Linked DNA regions of Homo sapiens. The protein of the gene in region 1 interacts with the protein of each later gene in a pairwise test. Each region holds a gene or a part of one and is shown on either strand. Other genes may lie near its edges.

What was found.
Region 2: the proteins of VPS52 (region 1) and KIF9 interact in binary tests that used the Homo sapiens proteins (3 or more experiments, as listed by UniProt).
Region 3: the proteins of VPS52 (region 1) and EPM2AIP1 interact in binary tests that used the Homo sapiens proteins (3 or more experiments, as listed by UniProt).
Region 4: the proteins of VPS52 (region 1) and ZC2HC1C interact in binary tests that used the Homo sapiens proteins (3 or more experiments, as listed by UniProt).

Annotation. Positions count from the first base shown.
Region 1 is NC_000006.12:33,249,778-33,254,917, forward strand, and holds the end of VPS52 (vacuolar protein sorting-associated protein 52 homolog), read right to left. Parts: intron 5,114-5,140; exon of another isoform or gene 4,921-5,113; intron 2,195-4,920; coding exon 2,083-2,194; intron 1,930-2,082; exon of another isoform or gene 1,860-1,929; coding exon 1,741-1,859; exon of another isoform or gene 1,736-1,740; intron 1,211-1,735; coding exon 1,064-1,210; 3' UTR 501-1,063; downstream 1-500. UniProt on the Homo sapiens protein: Acts as a component of the GARP complex that is involved in retrograde transport from early and late endosomes to the trans-Golgi network (TGN).
Region 2 is NC_000003.12:47,227,469-47,230,811, reverse strand, and holds the end of KIF9 (kinesin-like protein KIF9), read left to right. Parts: intron 1-2,109; coding exon 2,110-2,160; 3' UTR 2,161-2,814; downstream 2,815-3,343. UniProt on the Homo sapiens protein: Essential for normal male fertility and for progressive motility of spermatozoa.
Region 3 is NC_000003.12:36,990,091-36,997,692, reverse strand, and holds the start of EPM2AIP1 (EPM2A-interacting protein 1), read left to right. Parts: upstream 1-4,561; 5' UTR 4,562-4,615; coding exon 4,616-6,439; 3' UTR 6,440-7,602. Other genes in the region: DNA mismatch repair protein Mlh1, read right to left, coding at 984-1,074, 4,030-4,145.
Region 4 is NC_000014.9:75,065,418-75,072,640, reverse strand, and holds the start of ZC2HC1C (zinc finger C2HC domain-containing protein 1C), read right to left. Parts: upstream 3,001-7,223; 5' UTR 2,892-3,000; exon of another isoform or gene 2,693-2,891; intron 2,087-2,692; 5' UTR 2,068-2,086; coding exon 730-2,067; intron 1-729. Other genes in the region: ACYP1 (acylphosphatase-1 isoform c precursor), read left to right, coding at 3,350-3,431.

The DNA.
Region 1 (5,140 bases):
CTCTCTTCTTAGGCCTTAAAGGGGTCCCCGTGTCTCTCCAGTCTAGAGCCTAAGTTCAAACGAGGCGTATAGGCGAGGACAGCAGGAAGGCTCCAAGTCAAACAAACGGATGGTACGAATTTCGCCTGGTCTAGCCCTGCCCCAACGGTGTGGGTGTGGGTTGGGTGCTGCAGCCCCCGAGCAAGGGGCTGTCACAGCCACAACCAGAGGAGCTATGGAGCTGCTACGGAGGAGGGATTCCAGAGTCAGCTTGGGCTTGTCCCAAGGGAGCCCTTGGGACAGTGTCTGGGGCTGCGCGGCCTGGTTCTCATCCCTTGCAGCATCTGCTATTTTAGCCAGGGGCCACCTTCCTCCAATGGCCTGGGAGTAGCTAGAGGTTAGAGGTTACACCCACCAGAAGGGATGTAAGCCCAGGAAGTAGTCAGAAAGGAAAGGTCATTCTAGAGATGGGGCCACCTGAAAAACCTTCAGGAGGAAGGAGAAAGGAAATGGGATAAGTGTCATGTCATACTAAATATTTATTTTCTGCAGACTGACTTCGGAGTAATTCTTGAGCCAGGAGGGGAGAGGTTAGTGTTCAAATTGCTGAGATCTTAGGTCAAAAAGCTACAGAAAAGAAATCACTTTGAAAAACACAATGACTCAGAGGCAGTCACCCCTTGCCAGCAATTCCAAGAGCTGAGGAGGCTTCATGCCTCAGGACATGGTGACTAGTTGAGTGAACCAGAGATTGAGGCAGTGGTTTTTACAGGGGAAGAAACAAGCCTTGGGTGTATGGGAGCAGGAAAGGAGGGTGACAGACTGGAGAAATGATAAAGGCCATTTTGGAAGCCCACAGGGAAGTGGTCTTGGGAAACCTGAAGACACTGGGATATTCAGAAGGCCAAGGGGATCCAGCTTATCCTGTTGGGCAAGGTGCTGGGAGTGAAGGCAGGTAAGCCATGTCAAGGGCCTGGGAAGCAAGGGGAAAACTGGAAGGGGTACCCCAGGTGAAGAAGGGTATGGAATGGGGTGCAGAAGTCCATGGAGATGACCGGCAGATCTCAGGGCGGTTTCTGGCACATCAGAAGTTGGGCTTATGCTTCTTGAGCTCCACCATAAGGTGGTGAATGTTGATGAGCTCAGCCCGGGCAGGGAGGGCTCGGAGCTGCGGCTGGGACAGCACCCGGTGGAAGCGATGATAGAGCTGGATCAGCTGGGTCAGCGCTCCCTGGTCAAAGAAAGTCATTGAGGGATCAAACCGTAAAATGGTGCTAATAGTGATGATTAAGAATCAGGTTAGGCGGCCAGGCGCAGTGGCTCACACTTGTAATCCCAGCACTGTGGGAGGCCATGGCGGGCAGATCACGAGGTCAGGAATTCGAGACCAGCCTGGCCAACACAGTGAAACCCCATCTCTACTACAAATACGAAAATTAGCTGGTTGTGGTGGCAGGCACCTGTAATCCCAGCTACTTGGGAGGCTGAGGCAGGAAAATCACTTGAACCTGGGAGGCAGAGGTTGCAGTGAGCCGAGACTGTGCCACTGCACTCCAGCCTGGACAACAGAGCTAGACTCTGTCTCAAAAAAAAAACAAAACAAACAAAAAAAAAAGAATCAGGTTAGGGCTCATACAGAACTTTGGGCACAGCTAGTAACTGAAGACCAAGGGTCACTTAGATGATGCTGAGCCCAGCAAAAAGATGGGGAAAATAATTAATGATGGGGGATCTGAGTGGGGCCTGGGACTTGCAGGTCACCTGAATGATACTGGTGCCATTTCTGAAGTTGGTGAAACTCCGCATTACATCCTGACTCAGAGATTCCACTGATGATTTCCAGGAACTACCAAAGCCACGGATCAGCTGAGTTACCCGGGCTAATAGCAGGAGGAAACAGTGTCAGAGAGGGATCTGGCTGATCTTCAACTCCACTAAGTTCTCCCCAAGGTATAGCCATCCTTATCATCAAACCCTCTTTTCTGGTATTCTCTCAATCCAGTCTTTCATACTCTATTCCCCCACCATGTAATCTGCATCCTTTCATTTTTCTTTTCCACTTCCCTTACCACTGATCCCATCATTACCATATTTTCCTCATACCTTCTTCCCCTCGAAGTCGCTCAGCCTGTCCACGCTCAATCAAAGCCTCAGCCTCCTTCACAAATGCCACTAAACCCCCAAAAGGGGGAGACAGCAACTCTTCAATGAATTCCTGGAAAGACACAAACACATATACACAGGTGTCCTGGTGTCAGCAGATTTGCCCAATTCTGGCATCATGACTAATGTAGATCCATCTGAATGGCATCTTTCAGCTGCTGCAAAAGTTAAGGAAAATCCTCTATGGAGAAAAATATCCTCAATCCTAATTTTGGCCCATACAGTTCCCCTGGTTAAGATCAAACAATGAACTCAAAGATCACTAGACACAAAAGAAGGGCAGCTACCAAGAGAGTCAGCAGACACAATAAGCAATAGCTGCTGACCTTAAGAACTATCCGATACGGATAGCAGTTGTACTGTGTGCAATGTCTAAAGTTAAGGATAGGCCGGGCACAGTGGCTCACGCCTGTAATCCCAGCACTTTGGGAGGCTGAGGTGGGCAGATCACCTGAGGTCAGGAGTTCAAGACCAGCCTGGCCAACATGATGAAACCCCATCTCTACTAAAAATACAAAAATTAGCTGGGCATGATGGTGGATGCCTATAATCCCAGCTACTCGGGAGACTGAGGCAAGAGAATCACTTGAACTTGGGAGGCGGAGGTTGCAGTGAGCAGAGATCATGCCACTGCACTCCAGCCTGGATGACAGAGCAAGACTCCGTCTCAAAAAAAAAAAAAAAAAAAAAGGATGTAAAAATGACCAATTAGTAAGAACTATGAGGAATGAACAGACTTGAAAAAAGGAAATTTTTTTAGATATGAAAAGCCAGTTTTAGAAAGTCAACAGATTAACAAGAATTATACAATGAATTAGAATTTATAACTGAAGAAAGGACTCAGAATGTAGCACAGACAGAAGATGGAAAATTTTGAGATAGTAGGAGATACAGAAATCTAATTAATGTATCTAGGCACTGAAATTGATGGCTACTAACATCACAAAGAGAGCCAAGAAGACATTATGTGCTTCCTGATGGAAATACATACCACTACCTCTCAAATATCCCTGTAGAAAAAAAAAAACTAATTTAAATCTGACCAAGCCTTTCCATCTAATTACACACTTATGAGAAATACACCAGACAGAGGAAGTTTGGCCACACCATGGAATGCAGTCAGCAAAATCTAAACTGTACATCATTCTAGATGACAAATGACTCAATAACTCAGTTTCTTCCAAAAATAAATTGCAGAGGAGATGGAAGGGAAATCTATAGACTAAAAAAAGACACATATATGGACTTTATATGGATCCTGATTTGAACCATAAAAATCATTTATGAAGGCCAGGCACAGTGGCTCATGCCTGTAATCCCAGCATTTTGGGAGGCTGAGGCGGGTAGATCACCTGAGGTCAGGAGTTTGAGACCAGCCTGGCCAACATGGTGAAATCCTGTCTCTACTAAAAATACAAAAATTAGCTGGGCGTGGTGGTGGGTGTCTATAATCCCAGCTACTCAGGAGACTGAGGCAGGAGAATTGCTTGAACCCGGGAGGCAGATGTTGGAGTGTGCCAAGATCGGGCCATTGCACTCCAGCCTGGAGGCAACAAGAGTGAAACTGTGTCTCAAAAAAAAAAAAAAAAAAATCACTTATGAAATAACTGGGAAAATCTGAATAGTTATTTTAGATAAGATAATTTTTTTAAGTGTGATAATGTATTGTAGTTTTTAAAACCATCTGTTACCAGGTGTGGTGGCACACACCTGTAGTCCCAGTTACTTAGGAGGCTGAGGTGGGAGGATCACTTGAGCCCAGGAGTTCGAGGCTGCAGGGAGTTATATCATGCTACTACACTCCAGCCTGGGCACTACAGCAAGGCCCTATCTCAAAAATAATTTTCTTAATAAAAATAACATTCTGATACAGATGAAGTGATAATATTCATCTGTATATGTATAAGATTTAATTCAAAGTAACTGGGGGACACAGAAGGAGGATAAGCAATAGGTGTTGGTATAGATGAAACAAAACTGTCCGTGAACTGCTATACACCGAATATCACTGATGATGCCTGGGGGTTCACTATGCTTTTCTAATAGCATAGTGAAATTTCCCATAATAAAATGTTAATTTTTGTTTAATGTAAAAGGGAGATTCAAACAAAAAAACTCATAAAAGCAAACAACCCAGACAGAAAGATCTGGTAAGAAGAAAGTGAAATTATTATTCCATTTAAAAATAAATTATTAATACTAAAATTAGCCAGGTGTGGTGGTGCATGCCTGTAACCCCAGCTACTCAGGGAGACTGAAGCAGAAGAATCACTTGAACCGGGAGGCAGAGGTTGTAGTGAGCCAAGATCATGTCACTGCACTCCAGCCTGGGCGACAGAGCAGCAACTTGTCTCAGTAAATAAATAAATAAATAAATAAATAAAAATTGTATCTTTTCTATTCTTCCCTCAAAATATTCACTTATATCCACTGAGGGTGTCAAATAACTAATATGCTGCAAGGAAGGATCTTTCTATAATCAAGGCATCTTTGTGATGTGATTTTGGACAGAGATTAAATAACCAAATTCAACCTATTACAGTTGCCTAAATGCAGTCTCACACACACATATACAAACAATAATGTAGCAGTGTACGGTGGGGCACAGGGAGTAGACTTGCCAAAGAAAAGTTGAACTAACAGTGATGACCCCTGCTAGGCAGGAGCCATAAATTATATAATGTGTTGTAAGCATGATATATACACCTGATTTTGAAGACTTCATCTTAGAATAAATTTTAAGTATATCTTTTTTTTCTTTTTTTTTTTCGGAAACAGGGTCTTGCTCCATCACCCACGCTGGAGTGCAGTGGCACAATCACAGCTCACTACAACCTCAACTTTCCTGGCTCAGTGATTATCCCACCTCAGCCTCCTGAGTAGCTGGGACTAACAGGCATGTGCCAACATGTCCCACTCATTTTTTTTTTATTTTTTGTAGAGATGGGGTTTCACCATGTTGTCCAGGCTGGTCTCAAACTCCTGGGCTCAAGCGATC
Region 2 (3,343 bases), on another chromosome or scaffold:
CGCCTTGGCTTCCCAAAGTGCTGGGATTAGAGGCATGAGCCACTGTGCCCAGCCTGGGTAACTTCTTTTTTTTTCCCCCACAAGATGGAGTCTTCCTCTGTCACCTAGGCTGGAGTGCAATGGTGTGATCTTGGCTCACTGCAACCTCTGCCTCCCAGGTTTAAGCGATTCTCCTTCCTCGGCCTCCTGAGTAGCTGGGATTATAGGCATGCGCCACCACTACCGGCTAATTTTGTATTTTTAGTAGAGATGGGATTTTTCCTGTTGGTCAGGCTGGTCTCGAACTCCCGACCTCGGGTGATCCACCCGCCTCGACCTCCCAAAGTGCTGGGATTACAGGCATGAGCCATCGTGCCTGGCATTCTTTTTCTTTTTAATTAAAAACAATTTTTTAAAAATAGAGACTGGGTCTCCCTATGTTGCTCAGGCTGGTCTTCAGTTCCTAGACTCAAGGGATCCTCCTGCCTGGGCCTTCCAAAGTGCTGGGATTACAGGCATGAGCCACTGCACCCAGCCTTTTTTTTTTTTTTTTGACAAGGTCTTGCTCTGTCACCCAAGCTGGAGGGAGTGCAGTGACACGATCATAGCTCACTGCAGTCTTGATATCCTGGGCTCAAGCAATCATCTCACCTCAGCTTCCCAAAGTGCTGGGATCATGGGCGTGAGCCCCTGTGCCCAGATAGTTATTTTAAATAAATTCTTATTTTATGCTTTTTAAAAGGCTTTATTGAGACAGAATTTGCATACCATACAATTCACCCATTTAAAATGTGCAACTCGCCAGTCACGGTGGCTCACGCCTGTAATCCCAGCACTTTGGGAGACTGAGGTGGGTGGATCACTTAAGGTGAGGAGTTCAGGACCAGCCTGGCTAACATGGTAAAACCCTGTCTTTACTAAAAACACAAAAACTAGCCGGGGATGGTGGTGCACACGTGTAATCACAGCTACTCAGGAGGCTGAGGCAGGAGAATCGCTTGAACCCGGGAGGCAGAGGTTGTAGTGAGCCGAGATTGCGCCACTGTACTCCGGCCTGGGTGACAGAGCGAGACTCCATCTCAAAAAAAAAAAAAATTCTAAATCATTAAGCAGAGGAGTCCTGTATTTCTACAGGTCAAAATTCTATTCTCTCATTCCCCAATCTCTATAATTCTCTGTGTTGGCCATTTTTAATGTTTAAGATATGCCCATGCACAGACTTTTTATGCAAATGTTATACTCGAACCATTCCATGTTCTTTCAATTCTATGTTTTAGTTATTTAAATATATACTTTTATATAGGAAACATATAGATCAGATTTTTCATGGTCAAAATCTGTTTCCTGTTTTACTGAGTCTCATGGTGGCTTGACAGTGGCGTGTGTATGTGTGTGTGTTTGTGTGTGTATTGAAATCGTGACCTTGTGTTTGATTGAACTTAAGCTCAAGGAGACCTGAACACATAAATAGAAATTATTTTCCCCCTGAAAAGGTTTGCACTTGCTTTCTGCAGTTACCCATGGGGCATTACCAACCCAGGACCATTTTAACCCTCTTCAAGAATTCCAGTTTAATATGGGAGCTTCAATTCAGACTCCTACTTTGTGGGGAACCTAAGATTCCATGTTCCAAGCTAGTTTTAGCGTTTGCTGGCTTACAGCCCACTGTTTCTGTTTCAGCCTACAGTTTTCACCTGCTTTCTAAGAGCCTAGTGATGCATTAAAAAGGTATAATTTGTGAACATCTGATTGATTGCAGTGGCAAAGAGAGGGCCCTTCTGAATACCTGGCCCCTAACTCCTCTGGAGATAGAACCCTCTTCTTTTCTTTCTGAACCTATTCCCTATCAGAAACTCCCAAGAATGCCCTTGAAACCTATATGCCTCCTTTCAAATATGCCTGCCAGACTGTTTTAAAATAGTTTTACACACTTTCTTTAGGATAAAAGAATGAAAGAGTTTGAATGGATGTTATTTCTCAGAGAATTGGGGCTACTCAGAAGGAATCCTTGTCCACAACCCATGATGTTTGCAGGAGGAATGATAGGGTGAATGTGAGTGGCCTGGTCTGAGTCCCTGCTATGTCTGTCCCTCCTAATAAGTTCCTGTTTTCTCTTCCCTCTGTGTCCAGCATAATTACTTGAAAACCATGATGGGCCTCCAGCAGGCACATAGAAAATAGAACCTCATCGCCAGTACCTTAAAGGACAAGACCAGCAACTCCCACCTACTGTAGTGGAGCTGCTCAACCACCTGCCCAGAGCTGCAGCCCCCTCTACTCCAATGCTGGGACCCAGCACAGAGAACACATTTGGCCTGCATGTTGGGAGGAGCATCCTCCAAGGACAACCTTGCTCATCTCCACAGAGCACTTTGGGTTTTAATTCACTGTCTTATATGCAGGGACAGGATAAAATAACTTTCTAGTTTGGACTTTCAGTGCTCATCTGAGAACTTTGTCTTATTTCCTGTCTGAAAGGACATATTCTCTATGTATGTGTGAGGTCAGAACTGAGTCTCAAGTAGGAAGGCAGAAAAGTAGCTCAGCCAGGCTCCTCCTGGCAGGCCTTTGTCACACTGGTCAGCCCCTTTCCTGGATAGACATCCTAGGGTGGGGGTGGTGAGCTCGGTCTGAGGAGCTCTGCTTCTCACAGCTCCCTCAGACCCTAAGTTCTCTCAAGACATCTTTTCTGTGTTTCTGAGCCAGTGAAGAAGACAGGAGGAGGCCCTCCTTCATTTGGCAACCAGGGGAGGATAAGGTCTAGCCACAGAGACCAGAAAGGGATGAGGCAGAGCTGGCTCCATGTACCAGGGAATAAATGAGCAGCTTCTGGGAGACATGTCCTCTGCATGTTTCCAGAACACCACGGCCTTCCCTACGCAGCATGCACGGCCACCAGGCACCAGGGTGCCTCCCCTCCCCGCTTTCTCTCTCCGTGTAGGCTGCACTGAGCAGAAGTGAAAGTGAACGATTTACCCTGAATAGGAACTGGGATCACTGTCAAGGCTGAGCAGGGAAGAGAGAAGATATCACTCTCTATCAAGTTACCAGGCTGCAGCTTGGGCCCTTGGTGGTGGCACCAAAGGGAAAGAGTTCATTACTTTGCTCAGAGAACAAACTCAGGCCCTCTGGGGCCTTCCAGGCTGACTGATACGCCCCTGGGTTGGTAAACCAAGTCTCCACTGAGCGAAAAGTTTCAGTGCTTCCTTGGAATTGTATCTCACCCCCTCTTCTGTTCTTATGGGTCAAGGCCTTGGCCTGACACTCTGTGGGTGCTCCCCCGTCTGACACCCTCATCAGGGCCTTGAGGTTTCTGTTATTCTTCCAACAGTGGGAGAGGAGGTTCTGCTCACCTGGCAGTCCT
Region 3 (7,602 bases), on another chromosome or scaffold:
ACAGGCATCTTAAATTGAACATGCCCCAAAATGAACTTCTGATCTCTCTGAAAATCTGCTTCTTTCATAGTCTTTCCCATCTTAGTAAATGGCAACTCCTTCCATTTAGCAGACCAAAACCTTGAAATCATTCCTGATTCCTCTTTCTCTCATACCCTATATCAGCAAATTCTGAGAACTTTGCCTCCATAATTAACCCAGAATCTCACTGCTTCTTACATCTCTACTGCGACCAAGCAGTCTGCAGGACAGACTGCTTCTGCCCTGTCCTGCTATTTTCCACACAGAAAGACAAAGGATTAAAAAAAAAAAACTCACCACACCACGTAACCTCTGCTTAAAACCCTCTAACAGTATCCCACCATATTCAGAAAAAAAGCTAAAGATTTTACCTTGGCCCACAAGGATTTACGTGTTTTCACTCAGACCTCATCTCCTATTACTCTTTCCTTTTCAGCCTCTAGACAAACTGGCCTCCTTGATAGTCCTTTAACATGTCAGGTATGCTTCCATTTAATAGTCTTTGCGTATATTGTTCTGTAAGCCAAGAATACCTTTAAATAGCCTCACAACTTGCTCCTTGACTTCCACCGGTCTCTCAAATATCACATCCATATTGAAGCCTTCCTGAACTACTCAATTTAATTGCAACCTTTCTGGCTTGCACACTCCTATCTTCCTCCCTGCTTTAGTTTTCTCCACAGCACTTAATGCTATCTAATATAATATTTATTATACCCATTTTGTCTCCCACCACTATAATGTAAGCATCAGAAGAGAATAGATTTTAATCTATTTTATTCACTGACACATCCCCTGAACAGTGCCCAGCAAATAATAGGTACTCAATAAATATTTATTGTTGGTGTTGAATTTTTCAGTGAAAAAATCCCATCTGCAAAAGCCTAGTTTCCAGAACAGAGAAAGGTCCTGACTCTTCCATGAAGCGCACAAACATCCTGCTACTTTGAGGTTTTACTTACCCTGATCCCGGTGCCATTGTCTTGGATCTGAATCAACTTCAGGCCTCCCTCTTTAACAATCACTTGAATACTTGTGGATTTTGCATCTAAACTGGCAAATCAAACAGAAAATAATTTATCAGTCTGCAACTACTCTAATGTACATATTTTAATATGAGCCAAGCAATGATAACAAACTCCAAATACAAACAATAGTGCCTCATTAACGTGTTTTTCCTTTGTCTTACAGGCTCATACACTGTATGAGTTTACATATTGTGTGAGAGAGAGGGAAGAGACGGGCAGAGCAACCATCATTTCTAATAGGACATTCAGCACTATTTCTGTTCCTCTAGGAAAGACAGCAAGTGAAGTTAAAAATAGATTTCTTTTGGCAGATGTCTCTTCTCAACTAATTTTACTTTTACCTGAACTTTATTCAGCCTCAGGTTCCTAAGTGACTCTAATAAAATGTCACTAAATAATGTCACTAAAAAATAAAATTCTGAATGATTTTCTCTACTATTCCCTTTTATATTTACGATGGAGGGGAAAAAAAAAAGTAATGCAGAAAGTTAATAAATCTTTAGGAAGTCAATGAATTTTCTGGCCAGGCGCAATGGCTCACACCCATAATCCCAGCACTTTGGGAGGCCAAGGCGGGTGGATCACCTGAGGTCAGGAGTTTGAGACCAGCCTGACCAACATGGAGAAACCCCATTTGTACTAAAAATACAAAATTAGCCAGGCATGGTGACGCATGCCTGTAATCCCAGCTACTCAGGAGGCTAAGGCAGGAGAATCACTTGAACCCAGGAGGTGGAGGTTGCGGTGAGCTGAGATCGCGCCATTGCACTCCAACCTGGGCAACAAGGGCAAAACTCTGTCTCAAAAAAAAAAAAAAACCCAAAAAAAAGAAGTCAATAAATTTTTTGTGCTTTCAAAGAGTAGCCTATAAGCACAGACCAACTGCTAGAGAAAACAAATTTTCTAGCAGGGGCTGCATGAGAAAGAGTTATCTATTCCCCACACAGACAATTCTTTATTCAGAAATAAGATAATAGGCTGGGCACGGGGGCTCACACCTGTAATCCCAACACTTGGGGAGGCTGAGGTGGGCGGATCACCTGAGGTCAGGAGTTCAAGACCAGCCCGGCCAACATGGAGAAACCCCGTCTCTACTAAAAATAAAAAAATTAGCCGGGTGTGGTCATGCACGCCTGTACTCCCAGCTACTCGGGAGGCTGAGGCAGGAAGATCGCTTGAAACCAGGAGGCAGAGGTTGCCCTGAGCCAAGATCACGCCACTGCACTTCCGCCTGGGCAACAGAGTAAGACTTCATCTTAAAAAAAAAAGAAAGAAGACAATAAGTTACTTAAATATTACAGACATTTCTCATGAGCCCCTGTATTGAAGTTGTATTAGTCATCTCAACTTATATATTAAAAAGAGTATAACTGGACTCCATATAAAAATCTCCACTTGAGCCGGGCGCGGTGGCTCATGCTTGTAATCCCAGCACTTTGGGAGGCCAAAGCGGGCAGATCACCTGAGGTCAGGAAATCGAGACCATCCTGGCTAACATGGTGAAACCCTGTCTCTATTAAAAATACAAAAAACTGCAGGGCGCGGTGGCTCACGCCTGTAATCCCAGCACTTTGGAAGGCTGAGGCAGGCGGTTCACCTGAGATCGAGAGTTTTGACACCAGCCTGACCAACATGGAGAAATCCCATCTCTACTAAAAATACAAAATTAGCCAGGTGTGGTGGCACATGCCTATAGTCCTAGCTACTCGGGAGGCTGAGGCAGGAGAATCTCCCTTGAACCTGTGAGGAGGAGGTTGCAGTCAGCTGAGATCGCGCCACTGCACTCCAGCCTGGGTGACAAAGTGAGACTCCGTCTAAAAAAAAAATAAAAAAAAAATAAAAATCTCCACTTAAGTAATTAATTACAAGCCACCAAGCTAGTATGTTTAGTTTTGTTTTACAGTATTCTGGCACAGTACAATAATAGGCCCAGTTGTCCTGTCAATTCATTCTAACACAGTAGAAACAAAAGCCAGTCTGCCATTGCTTCTGTTACTACTATTACAAGTGAAAAGGAAAAAACATCCCCAGGTTCTTGCTCCTTCTTTCATCTACCTTCCAATTCTCTTCCTTTCCTTCAGTGGTCCTTTCTACCCACTGTTCTCTCAGTCCCATTGCCCTGAATAGTTTATACTTTCACAATAAATCCCTCTAGAAACCTACCACTCCAAACTGAAGCATTCTTTTTTCTATTAACGTACGGACGTCACTAACAACTGATTTTAACAAAATAATCTGACATAACGTTTAGGTGTATTTTGGGCTTGTCTTTTTGGAAGTTTATAGTCTGCACTCACTTTTCCTTCCACATGTTTCAAATCTCTTCCCTTCACATTTTTTGTCACAGTTATAAGCTTCAAAATCCAAGGATGACCCATAAAATCTGGTATCTTCGAAGTGCGTCCTCCGAAATAAAGGACAGGAAAACACTAAGAGGGGTCACTAATTTAACAATAGGGTAATCAGAAGTCAAGCCCAAAGTGCATCAGCCTGTCCTAAAACTACAAACGATTTGTTTTGAAAGAAACTCAAAATGAATTGTGCCTTTGGATGTGAACAGATGATTTCTGGAATGAATGAAAAGCAAGAAAACAGTAACACAGTACCCTCTGAAAAAAGGTTTTTCTCCCCATCTTAAGCTTTTATACATCTTTTAACTTCGCATGTTCTGCATACATAATTTTAAATTAAGTGGCTTCCTTACTTAGTTAACGGTACCATTAAGACAACACTACGTATATTCCTCCACTTACACTCCAAACAACCCTTAAAAGGTCTCGGGGGAGAGCGGTAAAGAAACACACGGTCTGCGGAAAAGGAGAAGGCCTGACTGGCACGTCAGGGAACCCGGCGGCCTCCGCCGTTGTGGGCATGCGCTGTACATGCCTCTGCCCGGGCAAAGAGGCGTGTCCGCGCCATTGAGTGACGCGGCCCGTTAAGTCGTAGCCCTTAAGTGAGCCCGGCTCGACTCCCTCCGTACCAGTTCTCAATCATCTCTTTGATAGCATTAGCTGGCCGCTGGATAACTTCCCCCGCCGCGATGCGGTTCACCACTGTCTCGTCCAGCCGCCGAATAACCCCTGCCACGAACGACATTTTGGCGCCAGAAGAGCCAAGGAAACGTCTAGATGCTCAACGGAAGTGCCTTCAGCCAATCACCTCAGTGCCTCGTGCTCACGTTCTTCCTTCAGCTGTAGCTTACGCCATCCAGCCCCACCCTTCAGCGGCAGCTATTGATTGGACAGCTTGAATGCCAGTCAAATTTCTCAACTCTGTGGGTTGCTGGGTCTCTTCGTCCCTCCCTGAAGCGGCTACTGCCCGCTACCTAGAAGGATATGCGCTTGCGCGTTAGAGATCGCTGTCCGCTCTTCCTATTGGTTCGTTTTTAGGAGCTCGGGGAATACGAAATATCCAGCCAATAGGAGCAGAGATGCCGGAACCGGGCTTGTGTGCCTCTGCTGAGGTGATCTGGCGCAGAGCGGAGGAGGTGCTTGGCGCTTCTCAGGCTCCTCCTCTCCCCTTGCGGCCTTTCTAACGTTGGCCCTGCTCTTGTGGCCTCCCGCAGAATGTGGATGACGCCCAAAAGAAGCAAGATGGAAGTCGACGAGGCTCTAGTTTTCCGGCCCGAGTGGACCCAGCGTTATTTGGTGGTGGAGCCTCCGGAGGGCGATGGGGCCCTGTGCCTGGTCTGTCGCCGCCTCATCGTAGCTACCCGCGAACGCGACGTCAGGCGCCACTACGAGGCTGAGCACGAATACTACGAGCGGTATGTGGCGGACGGCGAGCGCGCGGCCCTGGTGGAGCGTCTGCGTCAGGGCGACTTGCCCGTGGCCTCCTTCACTCCTGAAGAGAGAGCTGCTCGTGCAGGCCTCGGGCTCTGCCGCCTCTTGGCCTTGAAGGGTCGCGGCTGGGGTGAGGGGGACTTTGTATACCAGTGCATGGAGGTGTTGCTGAGAGAGGTACTGCCCGAGCATGTAAGCGTCCTGCAAGGCGTTGACTTATCTCCAGATATCACAAGGCAGAGGATCCTGAGCATTGACAGGAATCTACGCAACCAGCTTTTTAACCGAGCCAGGGACTTTAAAGCCTATTCTCTTGCCTTGGACGACCAGGCTTTTGTGGCCTATGAGAACTACCTCCTGGTCTTTATCCGCGGTGTAGGCCCTGAGTTGGAGGTGCAAGAAGATCTTCTGACCATAATCAACCTGACTCATCATTTCAGTGTTGGTGCGCTCATGTCGGCAATCCTAGAGTCCCTGCAGACAGCAGGGCTTAGCTTGCAGAGAATGGTTGGACTGACCACGACCCATACTTTGAGGATGATTGGTGAGAACTCAGGACTCGTCTCATACATGAGAGAAAAGGCCGTAAGCCCCAACTGTTGGAATGTCATTCATTATTCAGGATTTCTTCACTTGGAACTGTTGAGCTCCTATGATGTAGATGTTAATCAGATCATAAATACCATATCCGAATGGATAGTTTTGATTAAGACCAGAGGCGTTAGGCGACCTGAATTTCAGACTTTACTAACGGAATCTGAATCAGAGCATGGTGAAAGGGTTAATGGACGATGTCTGAACAATTGGCTTAGGAGAGGGAAAACTTTAAAACTAATATTCTCTCTAAGAAAAGAAATGGAAGCGTTCTTGGTTTCAGTAGGGGCAACAACAGTCCACTTCTCAGACAAACAATGGCTTTGTGACTTTGGCTTCTTGGTGGACATTATGGAACACCTTCGAGAACTCAGTGAAGAATTACGAGTTAGTAAAGTCTTTGCTGCTGCTGCCTTTGACCATATTTGTACTTTCGAAGTTAAGCTGAATTTATTTCAAAGACATATTGAGGAAAAAAATCTAACAGACTTTCCTGCCCTCAGAGAAGTTGTTGATGAGCTAAAACAGCAAAATAAGGAAGATGAAAAAATATTTGATCCTGATAGGTATCAAATGGTGATCTGTCGTCTCCAAAAAGAATTTGAGAGACATTTTAAGGACCTCAGGTTCATTAAAAAGGACTTAGAACTTTTTTCAAATCCATTTAACTTTAAACCTGAATATGCACCTATTTCAGTGAGGGTGGAGCTAACAAAACTTCAGGCAAACACTAATCTTTGGAATGAATACAGAATCAAAGACTTGGGGCAGTTTTATGCTGGATTGTCTGCTGAATCCTACCCAATTATCAAAGGGGTTGCCTGTAAGGTGGCATCCTTGTTTGATAGTAACCAAATCTGTGAAAAGGCTTTTTCATATTTGACTCGAAACCAACACACTTTGAGTCAGCCATTAACAGATGAGCATCTCCAAGCCCTGTTTCGGGTTGCCACAACTGAAATGGAGCCCGGTTGGGATGACCTTGTGAGAGAAAGAAATGAATCTAATCCATAAGGCTTTGTAGTACAAGATTGAAAAACTCAACAAGAATTTAATTCTAAAAGCAAAAATTGGTTTGAGTTTTCAAGTTTACTAATTTGGATTGTGAGAAAGTACCAAGTACCAGCCGTCCAAACTGATCACAATTAAAATTCTGACAGTTGCCTTTTTTTTCATCTCAAATGGCAGCATGGGACTGAAACATGAGAATGCCACCTTTTTTAAAACTTAGTTTAGTGACAAAGTCATTGTCTTTTATGATATAGTTAATTTTAAAGAGATTTAGTATTAATGTGAGTTGAATTTGCAGTCTGTTTTTTAGGTGTTCTGAAGATAAATGCCAAAAATTTCAGCTCTTATTTTAATGGAGTGTTAAAATTCTGATTCATATAGTCTTAAATTATCAACTCCTTAAATGTGCTTTTGAACCAATTTGCAGAAGCTCACATAGCAAGTTCATAAGTTTCCAAAAAGGAAGCCCATACATAACAGTGGAGGTGTTTTGTCTAACCATCAAAATGTTTGAGACTTTTTTTTAAACATTTCTGAGTTCGAAGGTAATACTGACAGATTTCTTCCCTCTTCCCTCCCCATCACCCACCTCAGTGATAACACATTACTGATAGAGGAAGTCATTAGAATCATTTTTAAGTTTCAGATATAGGAGACTTCATGCAATTTGGAGATAAGACTAATTATTGGGGGTTTTCCTTGGATTTTTTTTTTAATAACTGGGGGCTATTTTATCAGCTTGCCTATTAAAGGACTATGGTAAGTATAGAATCTTAATGGTTGCCAGTTAGTAATTCTTTTTTTTTTTTTTTTTACTGTAGACACAAGTTTGGCCCTATCAAAAACGATGAGGAAAAAAGATTGCACTCCAGGATTAGGAGGTGTGAGATATTTTAGCTTTTTTGTCTTATCTGCGTGGGTATTGCTGCTTTATTTTAAAAAATCCTGCCTAAAGTAAACACTTTGTTTTAAAATGATACAGTATCAGATTTTGTTAGATGCTAGAAATGGATTTATTCTAAAATTTGGAACTGTCGTACACATTCTATATGTAAGATAGCACACAAGTAGAAATATTTAAAAGCAGTCTTATTCACAGATTGCAGTAATTCTGTATTTCTACTAAGATAATCTGCTTTGTGCCAAAACAGTAATTTCCAAACTTC
Region 4 (7,223 bases), on another chromosome or scaffold:
AAGTTCACCTAAATTTATCATGTAAGTGTCACGAAACCCTTACTTTTTCCAACCTGGTTTTTCTAAAGTGAGAAATAATTGGCAAGGGCATGGTTTGTAAGATAACCAGAAAGAAAGTCCTTTTTACCTTCAAGGTGTTTACATTCTAAATGGGCAGAAAAAGAATTCCAAACTTAATTGTGTTTCATCTATTTACTAAGAAGCTATGTTAACACTGAGCTAACCTTAAAAGAGTGAATAGTTAAAGGAATGGTCACAGATCCTAGTCTTGGGAAGTGGCAGAATACATTGCAAAGAGTGAGGAGTTCTCTCCAGGTGACAAAAGGCTGCATTTTTTTCTTTAGATTTTTTGTGTCTTTTAAATTTTCTACAGTAAACTTTTATTACTTTTATAATCCAAAGGACACAAATTCTATGTCTAGATTTTTTAGTCATTCCAACCAAGATTTATATGCCGACTCTGCCACTTAAAGCTGTTTGTGACCTCAAGCAAGTTACTTAGCCTGTCCAAGTCTTGATTTTTGAACTGATACAATGAGAGATAATGTGGAGATCACATGAAAAGCTCCCGTCACAATGCTGGCATACAGTAGTAATCAAGAAATGTTAATTCTAGACGTCAATTCTTCCTACATGACACATGAATTTTCCCTAAAGAAAACTGATGATGACAAAACAGACCCCTACAATGATCACCACACCAAGTCACATCCATAAGGCTCTTGTTACCTTGGCTGAAGCTGGCCCCTTCCAGTTCAAGTACTGCTCTAGTTCTGTGCCCTTAGCCCGGGCCCTGGAGGAGTCAAACACTTTCCTCTTGGAACCCCGCATCCTGCTGCAGATGTTGGAGTGTCTCTCCAGCCTGAACGAGAGGAATTTGCGCCCACAGTGGCTGCACTCACCCAGCTGTGGCTCTTCAATGGAGCCGCTGGAACCTGAGGAGTCTGGTGCCATGGACAGGCTGGAATTTCTGGCGGATCCCTGCAAAGCACCGACTGGTGTTTCTGAAGGCGGGGAGAATTTCTCCACCGATGGCTCTGAGACTGGGTCTCGAATTTTATTATTGCTTGCTACCAGCCTTTCCCTTTTGAGCCTCTGGATTCTATAATCAGAGAACTGGAATGGACCTGAATTTTGTTGAGACCGTCCCCAAGTTTCATCCTCTCTCCTGTCTCTACTAAATTCTTCCTCAAACTCAAATTCTGGGGAGAAGATAGGTTTGTACATGGTGTTGCTTTTATTACCTTTAACTCTGCTCCTGGGGAGTATAATTTTCTGTAGCTCTCCGTTTTCATTTTCCTTGGCCTGTTCCTTTTGCGTCTGGATCCTTCTGAGTTCCTCCTCTGTCTTCTTCAGCTTTCCCCTCAGGAGAATCTGCTTTCTTCGGATTTCCTCCTCTAAGCTCTCCCCTGCAGCTTCTAGTCTTCGGATCTGCACCCACTCCGTCCTGTCAAAGTTTGCCACGGCCTTCTCCGCCTGCGTGGCAGCAAGAACAGTACCAACCACAGAAAAGTTGCCCTGGTTCCTCACACCAAAGTTCCTAGATGAAAACTCTCTCGGCTCAGGGGGCCTTGGGTAGACATTATGGTCCCCATCAGTGCCAGCCTCACCTGTACTGCACGACTTCCTGTGGACCATGGGTTTCAATGGGAACGCCCGGTCCACTCCAACTCGTTTCTTTGTAAAGGGGATAAAGTCCTGGTTATTGGCTTTGGGATACCAGGATTGAGGGCCTGACGAGTAAAACAAACCATTTCCTTGGCCCTGGGAATCACTTTCTGGATCTTGCTGGCTGATTCCAGTACAGTGGGGATAGGAGTAGCTCCGGGCTTTTGTTTGGGTGTTCCATTTGGGGTGAGTATAGACTTTATCCAGAATCAACTCTTTGTTGCTCAAAAGCTGCTTCTGGAAATTGTTCCTCAGGTGCCCCTTCAAGGACTGCTGGGAAGAGTCACCTTGTTCGTAAGAGTCTTGCTTGGCTGAGTGGGGCCCTGGAGCTTCCGTTGTATTATGTGGGAGCATAACGCCCACAGGCAGATGTGACGCCAACCGCTGGAGACCAGCCATTCAGGGCCTGGACTGACGCCTACGGGAGATTTAAACCAGATACACGGGAAGAGTTTGTCTGAGGTTCACTCTCGGCTGCTAAAGCAAACTATTTCTACATTTGCCCTGCCCACATTCCCTTAAACTTTTCTGGGGACAGTGTTGCTGGACCTGCCAAAGCTTCCCTTCAAAAACCATTTGGTGAGTGATTATGCACAAGACACTGTGTTAGGCCCTGAGGGTAGAAAAACGAAGGTGCTACAGGTGTTCCTGCCACCTAGCTTTCCTTTCCTCCAGCACCAGCCTCTGCCACGCACAGTATACTCTATAGTAGGTGGAAAGAGCACCTGACTAGAAAGTCAGGTTCTAGGCCTGTAACAGGACAAGCGACTTCTCCCTTGCTGGCCCCCGTTTCTTCCCCTGTAAACTGAAGGGTTCCCGCAGAGTCCAGCCTCACCATTTTACAGGTGAGAAAGCTGTGGCCCAGAGGTAGTGACTGGCACAAAGAACTCTCAGGGCTTCCCTCCTGCTGGAACCGTGCTTGATTCCAAAGAGCACAAAAGCTGCTAGGGCCTGGAGCAGGTGCCTGGCTGTCAAACCCTCATCCCAGGAGTCCCCGTGGCGCAGACTGTAAAAGTTTTGTAACCTGAGCGTTGAGGGCCACCTGACCTGACCGCGGCCGGTTTTAGATCCTTAAGGCTGAAGTCACGTTTTGTCCCGAAGGGTCAACTGGGGCGCCCCCACTTCGGACTCCACCTCTGGGGACAAGTCCTCTCGCTCTCCTGCCCTTCGGTCCCTTAGGAGGTGGAGGTGCTGATCCCATGTCTCCCCGCCCTTCTGCGTACCTGAGGCCCTCGGGCACCGCTCCTGCTCAGGGAAAACCCCAGGGCCTAGTTTCCCAGACCTGACCTCCCCATCAACCGACAGCCGCGCAGGCGCTCTCAGCTGGCTTCTGTTATTCCCGGTGCCTGGAAACCGAGGCACTGGCGCGCCAAGCTCCGCCCCTCGCCGCGAACTCCTCGGGGAGACGCGCGCAGGCGCAGTGCACCAGCGACCCGGGGCGACCGGGGGTGGGGGTGCGGTCAGCCCAAGGTCACTTGACCCAGTCAGTGTCCGGCCAACTCTGCAGCTCGGTCCAGCCCTGCCCTTGGGGAGCCGGGGAGGGGCGGGAGAGGCTTTTCTGGAGCTCCTTCAAAGAAGAACTTGTACTTTTCTGAGAACGACGCTCCCAGACCTTGGGGTGTGCCCTTGTCTGGCAAAGGGCGGAGGCCCTGGCTGTGCCTCCGCGTGCTTCCGCCGCAGGATGCCGGCGTCCGCCCGCCTGGCGGGAGCGGGGCTGCTGCTGGCCTTTCTCCGCGCGCTCGGCTGCGCTGGGCGGGCCCCAGGTATGGCTGCACGCGCGCGCTCCTTGCTTGTCCTCGCCAAGGCTTTGGAACTTGCTGCCAACGTTTTTGCTACGCAGTATCTTTCCGTGGTAGTTTTTGTGGCCAATCTAATTATTTTGATATTATAATGTTTTACTCACGTGGTAATTCTAGCCGTCTCTACTTAGGGCCCAGGAATGACTCAGCCAAATGTAATGATGATAAAGTTAACTACCAGATCGAAAATAATCAGTATAACCTGGCTTCAACAGTAAATGATACTCTATCTTGTTGACATCAAAAGAAAGTTCATTTTTCTTCTTCGCTTCAGTTCATCTGTGTAAGCCGTTTGGAACAGGCAGTTCGCTTTTTCCCTGTAACTACTCAATTCATGCACATGGAAAATAATGTAGACAGCAGTCATCAGTGTTAATACTTCAACATGTCATATTACAGCTGTTACCCGTTACAAGGAAATTCCTTGGTGGACCCTCCAGATCAGTCTTTTTTTTTTTTTTAATTCCTCGTTTTCATCCCTAGTTGACTCTACCGCCTCTCCGTATATGCAGCTCCAGACGTTTCCCACTCCACTCAGGGTCCCGATTATCAACTCCCACAGCTTCCCTCAGCAGAATTTACCGGCTTTCTTTTTCTCTTTCTCTCTCTCTCTGTCTCTCTCTCTTCTTCCTCCTCTCCCTCTCTCCTCTGTTTCTGTCTCTGTCTGTCTCCCTCTCTCCTCTCTCTCTCTCCTTCCCTCTCCTCTATGAGAAAGAAGGGCGACTTTCCATTGAGTTCCATTGAGTTCTCTTGAATTAGTCCTTTTCAGTACCCTCCGGGAATTGACTCCATCACTTTACCCCTGCATTTTTGTTTTGTTTTGTTTTCTGTTTTGTTGGTTTTTGGGGTTTTTTAAAGTTGTTTGTTTTTTGTTTTTTGAGACGGAATCTCGCCCTGTTTTGTTGCCCAGGCTGAAGTGCAGTGGCGCACTCTTAGCTCACTGCCACCTCTGCCTCCTGGGTTCAAGTGATTCTCCTGCCTCAGCCTCCCGAGTAGCTGAGATTACAGGCGTCTGCCACTACACCTGGCTAATTTTTTGTATTTTTAGTAGAGACAGAGTTTCACCATGTTGGCCAGGCTGGTCTTGAACTCCTGACCCCAGGTGATCCGCCTGTCTCAGCCTCCCAAAGTGCTGGGATTACAAGCATGAGCCACCGGGCCTGGCCTTTGTTTTTGAGACAGGGCCTCACTCTGTTGCCCAGGCTGAAGTGCAGTGGCACAATCACTGCTCACTGGAGCCTCAACTTCCACAGCTCAAGTGATCCTCCCACCTCAGCCTCCCGAGTAGCTGGGACTACAGGTGTGTGCCCCCCACACCCAGCTTACTTCTTTTTTTTTTTTCTGTAGAGACAGGGTCTCCCTTTGTTACCCAGGCTGGTCTCAAACCCCTGGAGTCAAAAGAGATCCTCCCGCCTCAGTCTCACAAAGTACTGAGATTATAGACGTGAGAGACGGCACCCTGTCTGCATCTTGTTAACTTCAAGTTATACCTCTCCATAAACTCTGTCTCTTTGGTTTTAACATATACTCAACTTTCCCCTGCAAAACAAACCTTACTTCCCTTGACCTAACTTTCATATTACAGTCCCATTCATTTCTCCTCTTCTCCACAAGACTTCTTAATGGAAATCTCCACATTTGCTGCCCACATATCCTCATCTCCCCGTCATTGTCCAGTTCATTGTGGCCTGTCTTCTACTTTCTCCACTTTATTTAACTACAAAGCTACCAGTGACTTTCCAAAGACAAAAGCTTCATTTTTTCAGCCTACTCATGTGACATTACTGATTATCCACCCACTTAGAATGCTCTTCTCAGTTCTCCTGTGCCCTCTTGGTTTCTTCTTTCATGTTCTTGCTCCATCTTCTTCCAAGTCTGGCATTTATCTTTTCCCCATCTACTCCCTAAATTTAAGTGTTTTCTGAAGCCCTCTTATTTCATATATATGTGTGTGTGTGTGTGTGTGTGTGTGTGTGTGTGTGTGTGTGTGTAGTTCCAGACATTCTCTTCTTTAATGATTTCAACCAAATGCTGAAATTTCAGGTTTCACCTGTGTTTAAATGACAGCCAGCTTAGCTTTAGTCTTTCTCATTAGTTACAGACTCAAATTTCAGGACTGCCCATTTGACACCTCCACAAGATTGTTCCTTAGGAACCTCAAATTCTGTAAGACAACATAAACTCTGATCCTCTCCCATTCTCAAATCTGCCTCTCCAGTGTGCCCTTGCATGCTCACAGCATCAGTCTTCCATGCTTCCCTCTTTGTTGCCTCTTCCTTCTAACTAATCACAAGTTTTATTGAGTTTTCTTCCTTTTTTTCTTTGAGACAGTCTTGCTCTGTCATCCAGATGGGGGTGGAGTGGCGCGATCTCAGCTCACTGCAACCTCTGCCTCTCAGGTTCAAGCAATCCTCCTGCCTTGGCCTCCCTAGTAGCTGGAAGTACAGGTGTGCACCACCACGCCCAACTAATTTCTGTATTTTTAGTAGAGATGGGGTTTCATCAGTCTCAAACTCCTGACCTCAGGTGATCCACCTGCCTTAGCCTCCCAAAGTGCTGGGATTACAAACGTGAGCCATCACGCCTGGCCTATTGAGTTTACTTCTGCAATGTCTCTCATATATGACTCTTCCTTTACATTTCTGCTGCCCCAGGTGAGTTTTTCCTCACTTCTCCTTGGGATGGCATAGCCCTCCTAACTTCTGCTCTTGCCTTCAATATCTGCTCTTCAAACCCATCCTTCATGCTGCAGGCAAAATAATCAGTCTAAATATTTCTCCACCCCCCCCCAGCTTTATTAAAATATAATTGACAAGCAAAAATTATATCTATATTTGCAGTGTACAAAGTGATGTTTTGATAATGTATGCATTGTGCAGTGATTAAATCAAGCTAATTACTAAATGCTTCTGATCCTACCATTTCCCTCCCCAGTAGCTTCTTCTTTACCTATAGAATAAAGTTGAAATGCATAATTTAGCATGGCATCTCTACCTCCCAGATTAGGTCCAGCCTACCTTTTCAGTTTTGCCTCCCCTTAATAAGCCACAGAGTTCAACCCAGTGAGTCTCATCCCTGACTGTGTGTTAAGACTACTTGGAAAGCAATATCTAGGGGTGAGGCCTGAGGATTAACATTTTTAAAGCTTCCCCAAAGATCCTGATGCACAAGCAGGGTAGCAAACCCCTGGTCTAGCCACAACTGGCTACTTGTACTTCTTCATCTCCATGGTACTACATTACTCTAAGCTCCACATACTGGGAGCTGGTAGAGCATAGCATTCATGGGGATTGACTCTGGAACCAAATCCCAGCTCCATCACTTACTGGTTGTGTGACCTTGGATTAAATGCTGTTTCCTCCAAGAACTCTTTCCCTGTCTTCCCAATCAGAATTAATTTGTTTGCTCCTTTGTAATATTTTCTGTCCTTGTTATAGCACAGGGCTGGTTCCTGATGAGCTCTCAATGGATTTTCATGGAATTAAATTATCATGCCATATATTTTATTGTCATTATTTGCATGCATTTGTGCCCCTACACTAAATTAAAAACTCTTTGAGGGCAAAGATTTTATATCATTCATCTTTGTATATCCTAGAGTGCCCCATTCGTATTAGACACTCAGTAAGTTTTGAATTCTATAAACTATTTTTTAAATGAATTTTAGAGAAAGAAATACCATTAGCAAGATACTCTATTTAGAGTTATTTTCAAATATTGCCAAGTACAACATTCAATCCAGCTTGTTCACCACCA